Regions from separate parts of the Homo sapiens genome. Here region 1 is linked to region 2. The links come from fine-mapping of genetic effects on gene expression. A gene starts in region 2. The other region holds a variant in brackets. All regions are shown on one strand. Distances are from middle to middle. Region 1 overlaps LOC107986860 (endogenous retrovirus group K member 19 Env polyprotein-like). Region 2 holds the start of GIMAP2 (GTPase, IMAP family member 2).

What was found. PIP is the estimated chance that this variant, and not a neighbour inherited with it, causes the effect.
Region 1: its variant is the best candidate, but not a certain one, in a credible set for the expression of GIMAP2 in nasal epithelium (TOPMed, PIP 0.67).

The regions. Positions count from the first base shown.
Region 1 is chr7:150,552,491-150,557,869 of GRCh38, reverse strand. All of the region lies in intron 1 of LOC107986860 (endogenous retrovirus group K member 19 Env polyprotein-like), which reads left to right. Among named protein-coding and RNA genes, the nearest start is that of GIMAP4, 12 kb to the left of the region's middle. The variant C/A (reference allele first, on the strand shown) is at 2,696.
Region 2 is chr7:150,683,003-150,688,381 of GRCh38, reverse strand. GIMAP2 (GTPase, IMAP family member 2) reads right to left here and starts at 2,676. Exons shown (of 3, transcript NM_015660.3): 1 at 2,597-2,676; 2 at 1,295-1,330. The coding sequence starts at 1,322. It overlaps LOC124901774 (a long non-coding RNA gene), which reads left to right and starts at 669. Exons shown (of 4, transcript XR_007060589.1): 1 at 669-785; 2 at 2,206-2,260. RefSeq lists an enhancer at 2,602-2,801.

The DNA of each region.
Region 1 (5,379 bases), 130 kb after region 2:
CCCACCCCACAACAGTCCCCAGAGTGTGATGTTCCCTTTCCTGTGTCCATGTGTTCTCATTGTTCAATTCCCACCTACGAGTGAGACTATGCGGTGTTTGGTTTTTTGTTCTTGCAATAGTTTACTGAGAATGATGATTTCCAATTTCATCCATGTCCCTACAAAGGACATGAACTCATCATTTTTTATGGCTGCATATATTCCATGGTGTATATGTGCCACATTTTCTTAATCCAGTCTATCATTGTTGGACATTTGGGTTGGTTCCAAGTCTTTGCTATTGTGAATAGTGCCGCAATAAACATACGTGTGCATGTGTCTTTATAGCAGCATGATTTATAGTCCTTTGGGTATATACCCAGTAATGGGATGGCTGGGTCAAATGGTATTTCTAGTTCTAGATCCCTGAGGAATCGCCACACTGACTTCCACAATGGTTGAACTAGTTTACAGTCCCACCAACAGTGTAAAAGTGTTCCTATTTCTCCACATCCTCTCCAGCACCTGTTGTTTCCTGACTTTTTAATGATCGTCATTCTAACTGGTGTGAGATGGTATCTCATTGTGGTTTTGATTTGCATTTCTCTGATGGCCAGTGATGGGGAGCATTTTTTCATGTGTTTTTTGGCTGCATAAATGTCTTCTTTTGAGAAGTGTCTTTTCCTGTCCTTTGCCCACTTTTTGATGGGGTTGTTTGTTTTTTTCTTGTAAATTTGTTTGAGTTCATTGTAGATTCTGGATATTAGCCCTTTGTCAGATGAGTAGGTTGTGAAAATTTTCTCCCATTTTGTAGGTTGCCTGTTCACTCTGATGGTAGTTTCTTTCGCTGTGCAGAAGCTTTTGTGCAGCAGAGGTTGCTGACAAAAGTTGTTTGTGGTAAATGTTGCTGCAAGGGCATGCCTGTTTCTTTGCACATCTGAATAGGAATGGCGTAGTCTGAGCACTTAGAGGCTTATCTTTATAACAGGAAGCATATAGAGACATTGCATGGCCTGGTCCTATGGCATTTCTCTCTTTTTGAGGACCTGAGATTCAGTGTAGAAGTCCTCGATTTTAAAAGTCTGGGTGTTCTGCTTTTCAACTGTGTAAATTGTTAGGGTTTACAAATTACAAGTAATTTTTTGGCCCTGTTCCTTGATGGGCTCCACCCTGGGCTCAGTAGTCAAGTTGAAGAAACAGACTGCAGTAAAAGTTACCTATCTTAAATGAAGTTGATCTCCTTGTGAAATCCTATGGTGAATTCCTATAATTTTGCATTGTTTTGGCATCCTTTTTTGATCTTTCTCTACCACACACACACACAAATTCCTTCTTAAAGGAGCGTGGACTTTCTCTCTCTCCCCTGACCCCTTTGAGATGTGGATTGCTACCCTGTTTCCTCTGGGGTTAGGTGAGGGCTTGAGTTGTCAGGGACAAGTGGGCATTGACTTATTCAATTTGCAGGGACATAAGCTTAATCCAGATGTCTTTTAGGATGAGTGAGTTCTGCCAGTTTCATGGCTAGAGTTTTAAAATCAAGGCTGGGTATCTTTGCTTCTCTCTGTATTTTTATGTGCACATGTGAGTATGTTTTTATGTATTTACTGTGATATCAAATTGGCTTATAAACAAAGGAGTACTCATAAATGAAATAAATAAGTCCAGTTTTTTTCAAGTTTATGTGATTTTAGCAGTCTTTGATAAATATAGTTTTTAAATTGTTGTTAAAATAGAAATGTCTTCAAAATTTAATTTAGACACATTTGTCTTGGTCAGGAAGGTTTATAATCTTTCTGCTGGATGTTTTAAGATCATAAAACTCTAGCTGCCATACTACTTCTGATACTCAGTGCCTTTATTAGGTCTTATGATTGTTTAGGAAACTGAGTCTCCTCCCTATCAAAGAGTAAAGGTTTTTGCTTTTTGAAATATTTTGGTTATCACTTTGGCTAAATAAATGACTATTATATCACAGTGACCTATGATATTAAAGTAACTCTATCCTCATAAGGATTCCAGATCAGACATTTTGAATGCAAGTCACCATATGATTCAGCAGTACCATGCCATGACTGGAATAGCCTTATGATACTTTAAAGTGGAATATTTATTGATTTGAGGGGCTTGATGGAGGATGGAGAGTGAAGATGGGGAAGAACAAGTGGGATCCTATTTTTAGCAAGTAGGTTTTAAAAACACTCTTATTTTAGGTTAAGGCATACATGTGCAGGTTTTTTATATAGGTAAATTCGTGTTACGAGGGTTTGTTGTACAGATTATTTCATCACCCAGGTATTAAGCCTAGTACCCATTGGTTATCTTTTGTGCTCCTCTCCCTCCTCCCATCCTCCACCCTAAGGTAGGCCCCAATGTCTACTGTTCCCCTCTGTCCGTGTGTTCTCATCATATAGCTTCCACTTATAAGTGAGAACATGCAGTGTTTGCTTTACTGTTCCTGCATTAGTTTGCTAAGGATAATGGCCTCCAATTCCATTCACGTTGTTGCAAAGGACATGATCTCATTCTTTTTTATGGCTGCATAGTATTCCATGATGTATATGTAACACATTTTCTTTATCCAATCTTATTTCTTTCTCTTGCCTGATCTCTGGCTAGGACTTCCAGGACCATATTGAATAAGACTGGTGAAAGATGGCATCTTTGTCTTGTGTGGGTTTTTAAGGGGAATGATTTCAGCTTTGGCCCTTTTAGTATA[C/A]TGTTGGCTGTGGGTTTGTCATAGATGGTTCTTATTATTTTGATGAATGTTCCTTCAATACCCAGTTTATTCACAGTTTTTGACATGAAGGAATGTTGCATTTTATCAAAAGCATTTTCTGTGTCTATTGAGATAATCATGTGGTTTTTGTCTTTAGTTCTGTTTATGCGATTAATTACATTTATTGATTTGTGTATGTAGAACCAACCTTGCTTCCCAGGGATAAAGCCTACTTGACCATGGTGGATTAGCTTTTTGATGTGCTGTTGGATTTAGCTTACCAGTATTTTGTTAAGGATTTTTGCATCAGTGTCCCTCAGAGATACTGGCCTGAAGTTTCCTTTTTTTGTAGTGTCTCTGCCAGTTTTTGGTATCAGGATGATTCTGGTCTCATAGAAAGAACTGGGGAGGAATCCCTCTTCCTTAATTTTTTTGGAATAGTTTCAGTGGGAATGGTACCAGCTCTTTATATATGTGGCAGAATTTGGTTGTGAATCCATTTTGTCCTGGGCTTTTCTTGGTTGGCAGGCTATTTGTTACTGATTTCATTTTGGAGCTCATTACTGGTCTGTTCAGGGATCCTGTTTCTTCCCGGTTCTGTCTTGGGAGGGTGTATGTGTGCAGGAATTTATTCAATTCTTCTAGATTTTCTAGTTTATGTGCCTAGAGGTGTTCATAGTAGTTTCTGATGGTTGTTTGCATTTCTGAGGATTTAGTAGTAATATCCCCTTTTTTTGTTTCTAATTGTGTTTATTTGAATCTTCTCTCTTTTCTTCATTAGTGTAGCTAGTGGTCTATCTATCTTATTAATTGTATCAAAACATCAGCTCTTGGGTTCATTAACATTTTGAATGGTTTTTCATGTCTCATTCTCCTTCAGTTCAGCACTGATTATTTCTTGTATTCTACTAGCACTGTGGTTGGTTTGCTCTTGCTTCTCTAGTTCTTTTAGTTGTGGTGTTAGGTTGTTAATTTGAGATCTTTCTATCTTTTGATATGCGCATTTAGTGCTATAAATTTCCCTTTTAACATTACCTTAGCTGTGTCCCAGAGATTCCACCATGCTATATCTTTGTTTTCATTAGTTTCAAAGAACTTCTTGATTTCTGCCTTAATTTCATTGTTTATCTAAAAGCCATTCAGGAGCAGGTTGTTTAATTTCCATGTAGTTGCATGCTTCTGAGCAATTTTCTTAGTCTTGAATTCTATTTTTATTGCTCTACAATTTAAGAGAGTGGTTGGTATAATTTCAGTTATTTTACATTTGTTGAGGATTGTTTTATGTCCAATTGATTTTAGAGTATGTGCCATGAGGTAATGAGAAGAATGTATATTCAATTGTGTTTTTGTGGAGAGTTCTGTAGATGTTTATCAGGCTCATTTGGTCCAATGTTGGGTACAGTTCCTAAATATGTTTGCTAATTTTCTCCCTCAGTGATCTGTCTAATATTGTTTGTGGGGTACTGAAGTTTCCCACTATTATTGTGTGGGAGTTGAAGTCTCTTTGAAGGTCTCTATGAACTTGCTTTATGAATCTCTGTGCTCCTGTGTTGAGTGCATATATATTTAGGATAGCTAGATTTTCTTTTTGAATTGAAGTCTTTACCATTATGTAATTCCCTTCTTTGTCTTTTTTTAATCTTTGTTAGTTTAATGTTCTTTTTTTCTGAAATTAGGGTTGCAACCCCTCCTTTTTTCTGTTTTCTATTTGCTTTTAGTAGATTTTTCTCCACTTCTTTATTTTAAGCCTATGTGTGTCATTGCATGTGAGATGACTCTCTTGATGACAGCATACCATTGGGTCTTGCATCTTTATCAAGCTTTCCATTCTGTGCCTTTTAGGTGGGGCATTTAGCCCATTTACATTCAAGGTTAATGTGGACACATGTGGATTTGATCCTGTTATTGTGTCATTAGCTGGTTGTTATGCTAACTTGTTTGTGTAGTTGCTTTATAGTGTCACTAGTCTGTGTATTTAAGTGTGTTTTCTTGTAGAGGCTGGTAATCTTTCCTTTCCACATTTAGTGCTTCATTCAGGAGCTCTTGTAAGGCAGCTCTGGTGGTAAAGAATGCCCTCAGCATTTGCTTCTCTGAAAAAGATCTTATTTCTCCTTTGTTTATGAAGCTTAGTTTGACTGGATATGAAAATCTTGGTTGGAATTTCTATTCTTTAACAATGTTGAACATAGGCCCCCAGACTCTTCTAGTTTGTAGGGTTTTGCTGAGAACTCTGTAGGTAGTCTGAAGGGCTTCCTTTTTAGGTGACCTGCCCTTTCTCTCTAGCTGCCTTTAACATTTGTTCTTTCATTTCAACCTCAGAGAATCTGATGATTATGTGTCTGAGAGATGATCTTCTTGTGAAGTATTTTTCAGGGTTCTCTGCATTTCCTTAATTTGAATATTGGCCTCTCTAGCTAGGTTGGGAGCATTGTCATAAATGATATCCTGAAATATGTTTTCCAAGTTGCTTATACTTTCCTCATCTTTCAGGAATGCCAACAAGTCATAGATTTAGCCTCTTTACATAATTCCACATGTCTTGGAGATTTTATTTGTTCCTTTTCATTCTTTTGTCTTTATTTTTGTCTGACTGCCTCCTTTCAGAAAGTCAGTCTTCAGACTCTGAGATTCTTTCCTCAATTAGGTCTATTCTGCTGTTTAAACTTGCAATTACATTCTGAAAT
Region 2 (5,379 bases):
AGGTGGGCAGATCACTTGAGGTCAGGAATTTGAGATCAGCCTGGCCAACATGGTGAAACCCTGTCTCTACTAAAAATATAAAAATTAGCCAGGCATGATGACACATGCCTGTAATCCCAGCTACTCAGGAGGCTGAGGCAGGAGAATCACTTGAACCTGAGAGGCAGAGGTTGCAGTGAGCTGAGATTGCACCAATGCACTCCAGCCTGGGCCACAGAGCCAGACTCCATTCCCTCCACCCCGCAACCAAAACAAAAGGAAATCAAGATTGCATAATAAGAGTCAGTGGCTGGGAGGAAAAAAAAAGTTGTTTCTCATTTGGATCTCAGAGTTCAGCTTGATCAATAAACAAGTTCCATACACAATGAAGCCAGAGACCTCCTATTTCTCACAGGTGAGGGTTGAGTGTGAAGGCAACTTGGTAAGGAGGAAGATCTGGGCTCTTCTTGATGTAAGAGACTGAAGACAGGGCTGTCGAGGGGCAGAGAGTGAGGAGGAGGGAGTGGGAAAGGGGAGGTCAAGATACAGAGAGAGAGACGCCCATACCATACAGATAGCAGAAACAGGTGCAAGAAGAGGAGAGAGAGAGAAAGGACAAGGGAAGAGAAGGGAATGATAGAGACAGACAGAAAGACAGAGAGAGAGACACACACACACACACACAAAGAACCTATGGAAATGTGAGAGAAGGAAGAGAAGACTGAATGGTAGGAGAAGGAGTATTTCAAAGAGATCTGAAAGATTTGTGCATAAGGGAAAAGCCTGGATGCATATTTTGGATCCTGGTGAGTATTTTAACAATTTTCGAGCCAGACTTGGTGGTTCATGCCTGTAATTCCAGCACTTTGGGAGGCTGAGGCGGGTGGATCACAAGGTCAGGAGTTTGAGACCAGCCTGACCAATATGGTGAAACCCCGTCTCTACTAAAAATACAAAAAAAAATTAGCTGGGCGTGGTGGTGTGTGCCTTTAGTCCCAGCTACTTGGGAGGCTGAGGCAGGAGAATCACTTGAACCTGGGAGGTGGAGGTTGCAGTGAGCCGAGATTGCGCCACTGCACTCCGGCCTGGGTGACAGAGAGAGACACTGTCTCAAAACAAACAAACAAACAAACAAACAAAGAAAACAAAACCCCACAATTTTCAGCTGCTGGTGGTGGTAGCTGTGGGAGTTAGAATAAGATCCTTCACCCTTGTTTATTTTGCCCCAACATCATCAGAAGAGCCAAACACACACACACACACACACACACACACACACACACACACACACACACACGTGAAGTCACCTTCTTACCCCAGTGACTGTGTTCATTTTGGTCCATTGGTGTTCCTGAGAAACAGAGAGACAAGAAACTTATTTTTCAGTTCTAAATCATGAAAAATTCTTATATTTCTTTTCTTTTCTTTTTCTTTCTTTCTTTTTTTTTTTTTTTTTTTTGAGACACAGTTTCACTCTGTCACCCAGGCTGGAGTGCAGTGGTGCGATCTCGGCTCACTGCAACCTCCACATCCTGGGTTCAAGTGATTCTCCTGCCTCAGCCTCCCGAGTAGCTGGGATTATGGGTGTGCACCACCATGCCCATCTAATTTTTGTAGTTTTAGTAGAGACAGGGTTTCACCATGTTGGCCAGGCTGGTCTCAAACTCCTGACCTCAAATGATCCACCAGCCTCGGCCTCCCAAAGTTCTGGAATTAAAAGCGTGAGCCATCACACTAGGCCAAGATCCTTATATTTCTAAACAACCATGTTTCATTTGTCTACTCATAAGGGACAAGGTGGGTGGGAAAGGAATGACTTCCTACTTTACAGAGAACTGGAATCACTTGCTGAGGGGCTGAGAAGTGGGTTTCATTTGTAAGCCTCATGCCCAGCTCTCTCTCGCTTTCTTCCTCCCGTCCTCTCACAGATCAGCCCGGCTCCCTTCTGTTTTTGTTTTGCCTGCACACTCTTCGCTTCTGTCAGCTTTCTCTGTAGGTGTGCCTTCCCTTACACCTTAGGCTCAGTCCTCCCTTTCCCTCTCTTTCTTTTCCCACCTTGCCTCCTTCCCTCCTCTACTCTCTCCAAACCTCCTCCCTCATGTTGAGTCTTTGCTGAGAGACTCAGTGAATGAAGATTATGACTCTGGGAAACCGTGCAGTCCTTTAAGCTGGAAATACACTTCACTTGATCCATTAATGGCTTGAATTTTTCTCATTCCCCAACAGCCCCTGGTTATGAAGCCCTTGCAATGTAGGAACTACTATGGAGTGAGAAATATCGGTACGTTTTCATCAGCTAGTTTCTCTTGCTTAAATCTGGCAGGCATAGACCAAGCGTACAAGCACAGAAAACTGAAAGCCACCGATTAATGCCCAAATTCTTCCCAGTTAGCACTTTTTATTGACTTTATACTATGGAAATTCTTTCTTTGCCAGTAATGTGTAAAGTAAATTACATCGGTTTCCTGTAAACTGGCTCCACTTAAGGAAAAGGCAGTCACTCTAAATTGCTTCTCTTAAAATAGGACAAATTTGTTCTAAGAAAAATGAAAATGTTTGTGCATGGCTTGGGACCTAGAAATCAACACTGCAGAACTTTTCGTAAATCTGGGCTTACCTGATTTACTGTTCAAAGAAACAGTTGGCTCCCTGTTCAGTCCTGTTGTCTTATAGCTCAGCTCCAAGAGAAAAAGAAAGTAAAACCGAGACTCCAGTCGGTCTTCTTCCTCTCTTGAATCTTCCTGAGCTTCCTGACTGCTAATGAACGCCACCACGTGCCTGTGTTTGAAATTCTCTTTCATGCCATTATGCAAAATAAACAGTTTAAATGGAAAGTTAATCAGTAGTTATTTGCTGTCATGTGGGCCAACTGTCTCTTCTTCTCAAAAGTGAAAAAAGAGTGTTTTAATGATTTCATCTGGACTGGAAAGAAAGGCATGAATGCCAAGGAAGTTGGTGGATTTCAGTCCTTCCCAGCTGGGATATGTCCCAACAGTTAGAAGTTTGTCTAGATGCAAATGGCCCCCTGAGAAGGGCTTAAACCTCATTGACACCAGCAGCAGGGATTGTTCTAAAGCAGATGCCACTGGGAGAGAAGAGGAGCCTCTGATAGGCACTGCCCAGGGGAAGAAGGGCACAGAAAGGGGAACCTGAGAGGGGACATTTTTGTCTGAGTCTGATTGTAAGGATCATTAACCATCAAAACATTTTTACATAACTCATTCATGGCTTCTAGGATTCTGGGCCTTTCTTCCCTGTCCAGCTCTGTAATTTCAGAGAACCTCCCTGTGGGGAGAAATTGTCTAGGAAATGTCTATAGTAATACTCTGGAGTGTTGGCTGGGTCAAATGGTATTTCTAGTTCAAGATGCCTGAGGAATCGCCACACTGACTTCCACAATGGTTGAACTAGTTTACGGTCCCACCAACAGTGTAAAAGTGTTCTTATTTCTCCACATCCTAGCATTTAAAACATTTCCTTTTGATTGTCTTGGAGTTTCCAGGTTTATCATAGACTCAGTTGCAAATAGTGATAATTTTCCCTCCTTGTTTCCAAAAATATCTTATGTTGCTTTCTCTTGTATAATTACAATTGCTTGCTACCTTTTCAAAAGTGAGTTAATGTGCTTTTATTATTTATTTACCTGTAGGGCACCTAATATCTTATCATTAATATTGATGTTGGTTATTGGAAATTAATTAGTTTATTTTAAAATCAGTGTGGCTATACTTTGCTTAGTCCTATTTCATTAAAGTCTTTTATCTGTGGTATAAATTTAGAAAATTTTATTTTGACGTTGACTGATATAATTCCATGTCTTTTTCCTTTTGACCTACTAATATTGCAAATTACATCACTGCGTTTCCTAACATAAGTGATATGTACATGTACATGTGCAAAGGTTTGGGTTCCTAGGAATACAGACTGTTGAGATGAAGATAAAATGGATGAAGGAAGTTTATTAGGGAATCTTCTCAGGAAATGTGCTAGAGGGAGAAGGGAAGAACCCAGGATTAGGCAGGGAGAAGTGAGACTGAGATGTAGTCACAACAAATATAGACTCTACAGGGAGTTCTAAAGTTTGGTTGGACTTTCAGAATGAAGGAGAGTGAGCAGAACTTTATAATCCCCATCGGATGCAAACTTCCTCTGGAAAAGACACTTGACTTACATAGGGCATCTCTCTTCAGCATAAGCTAATTTCTGGACAGGTCTGACGGCTCAACAGCTGAGAGCTAACAACTGGTCTCACTCCCAGCAACTGGAGATAGGTCCTTCTGTTTTTGCACTGTTCCTCTAGGTTTGGAGATGCAAATATTGCTTCTCCTGCTTCATCTTTTAGATCATCTGTAGAGACTTCCAAGCACAGTTTTAAATATCTCCCTCATGAAATTTCTTGTTCAAGCCTTCTCACTCCTGTCCCTTCTGAACATGAGCATACATGGAACATTTCCCCTATGTCCCATGGTTCTAGTAAGTGATGTGACTACAGCCTTAAAGGAGGAGTAAGATAGATGTTGGGAGGAGGTGAGGAAGGAGAGGGCAGGGGCTGAGTAGAGGTGCATGTTTTAGAGTACTATGACATTTTAAAATTCATTTTATTCCCATGGTTCAAGGCAATTTTGGAAAATGGGTCAAGCCGAAAGAATAGACCACAGATTTCCTGCAGTCATATTGAGATGTATTTGACAATTGTTCTGTGGTTTCTTGTAAAGTGTTTATTTATAAAGCAGTACTGTTCAATAGAGAATTCTGTGATGGACATGTTTACTGTCTGCCCTGTCCAATATGGCAGCCACTAGCACATGTGGCTGTTGAGCACTAGCAAGGTGGCCAATGTGATGGAGAAACTGAATTTTACATTTTAATTTTAAATCATATAATTAAACGGCCACATGTGGCTAGTGGTTACCGTTTTGAACAGTGCAATTATAGAGTATATCATTCTCAATAAGATGATACAAAACATTGTGTATGTAAAAGGAGGGGGTGCACAGGTAAAGATATGATGAGAAATTGCAAAACAAAAGGAACAAGTGGATTTAACATCCCAAAATTCCAAAACATGGGGAGGGGAGGCTTGTTACTGTGAATTTAAAAATTGCGGTGACTTTCCCCATTGCTTGTTTTTGTCAGGTTTGTCAAAGATCAGATAGTTGTATATACGTGGAATTATTTCTGAGGGCTCTGTTCTGTTCCATTGGTCTATATCTCTGTTTTGGTACCAGTACCATGCTGTTTTGGTTACTGCAGCCTTGTAGTATAGTTTGAAGTCAGGTAGCGTGGTGCCTCCAGCTTTGTTCTTTTGGCTTAGGATTGACTTGGCGATGCAGGCTCTTTTTTGGTTCCATATGAACTTTAAAGTAGTTTTTTCCAATTCTGTGAAGAAAGTCATGGTGG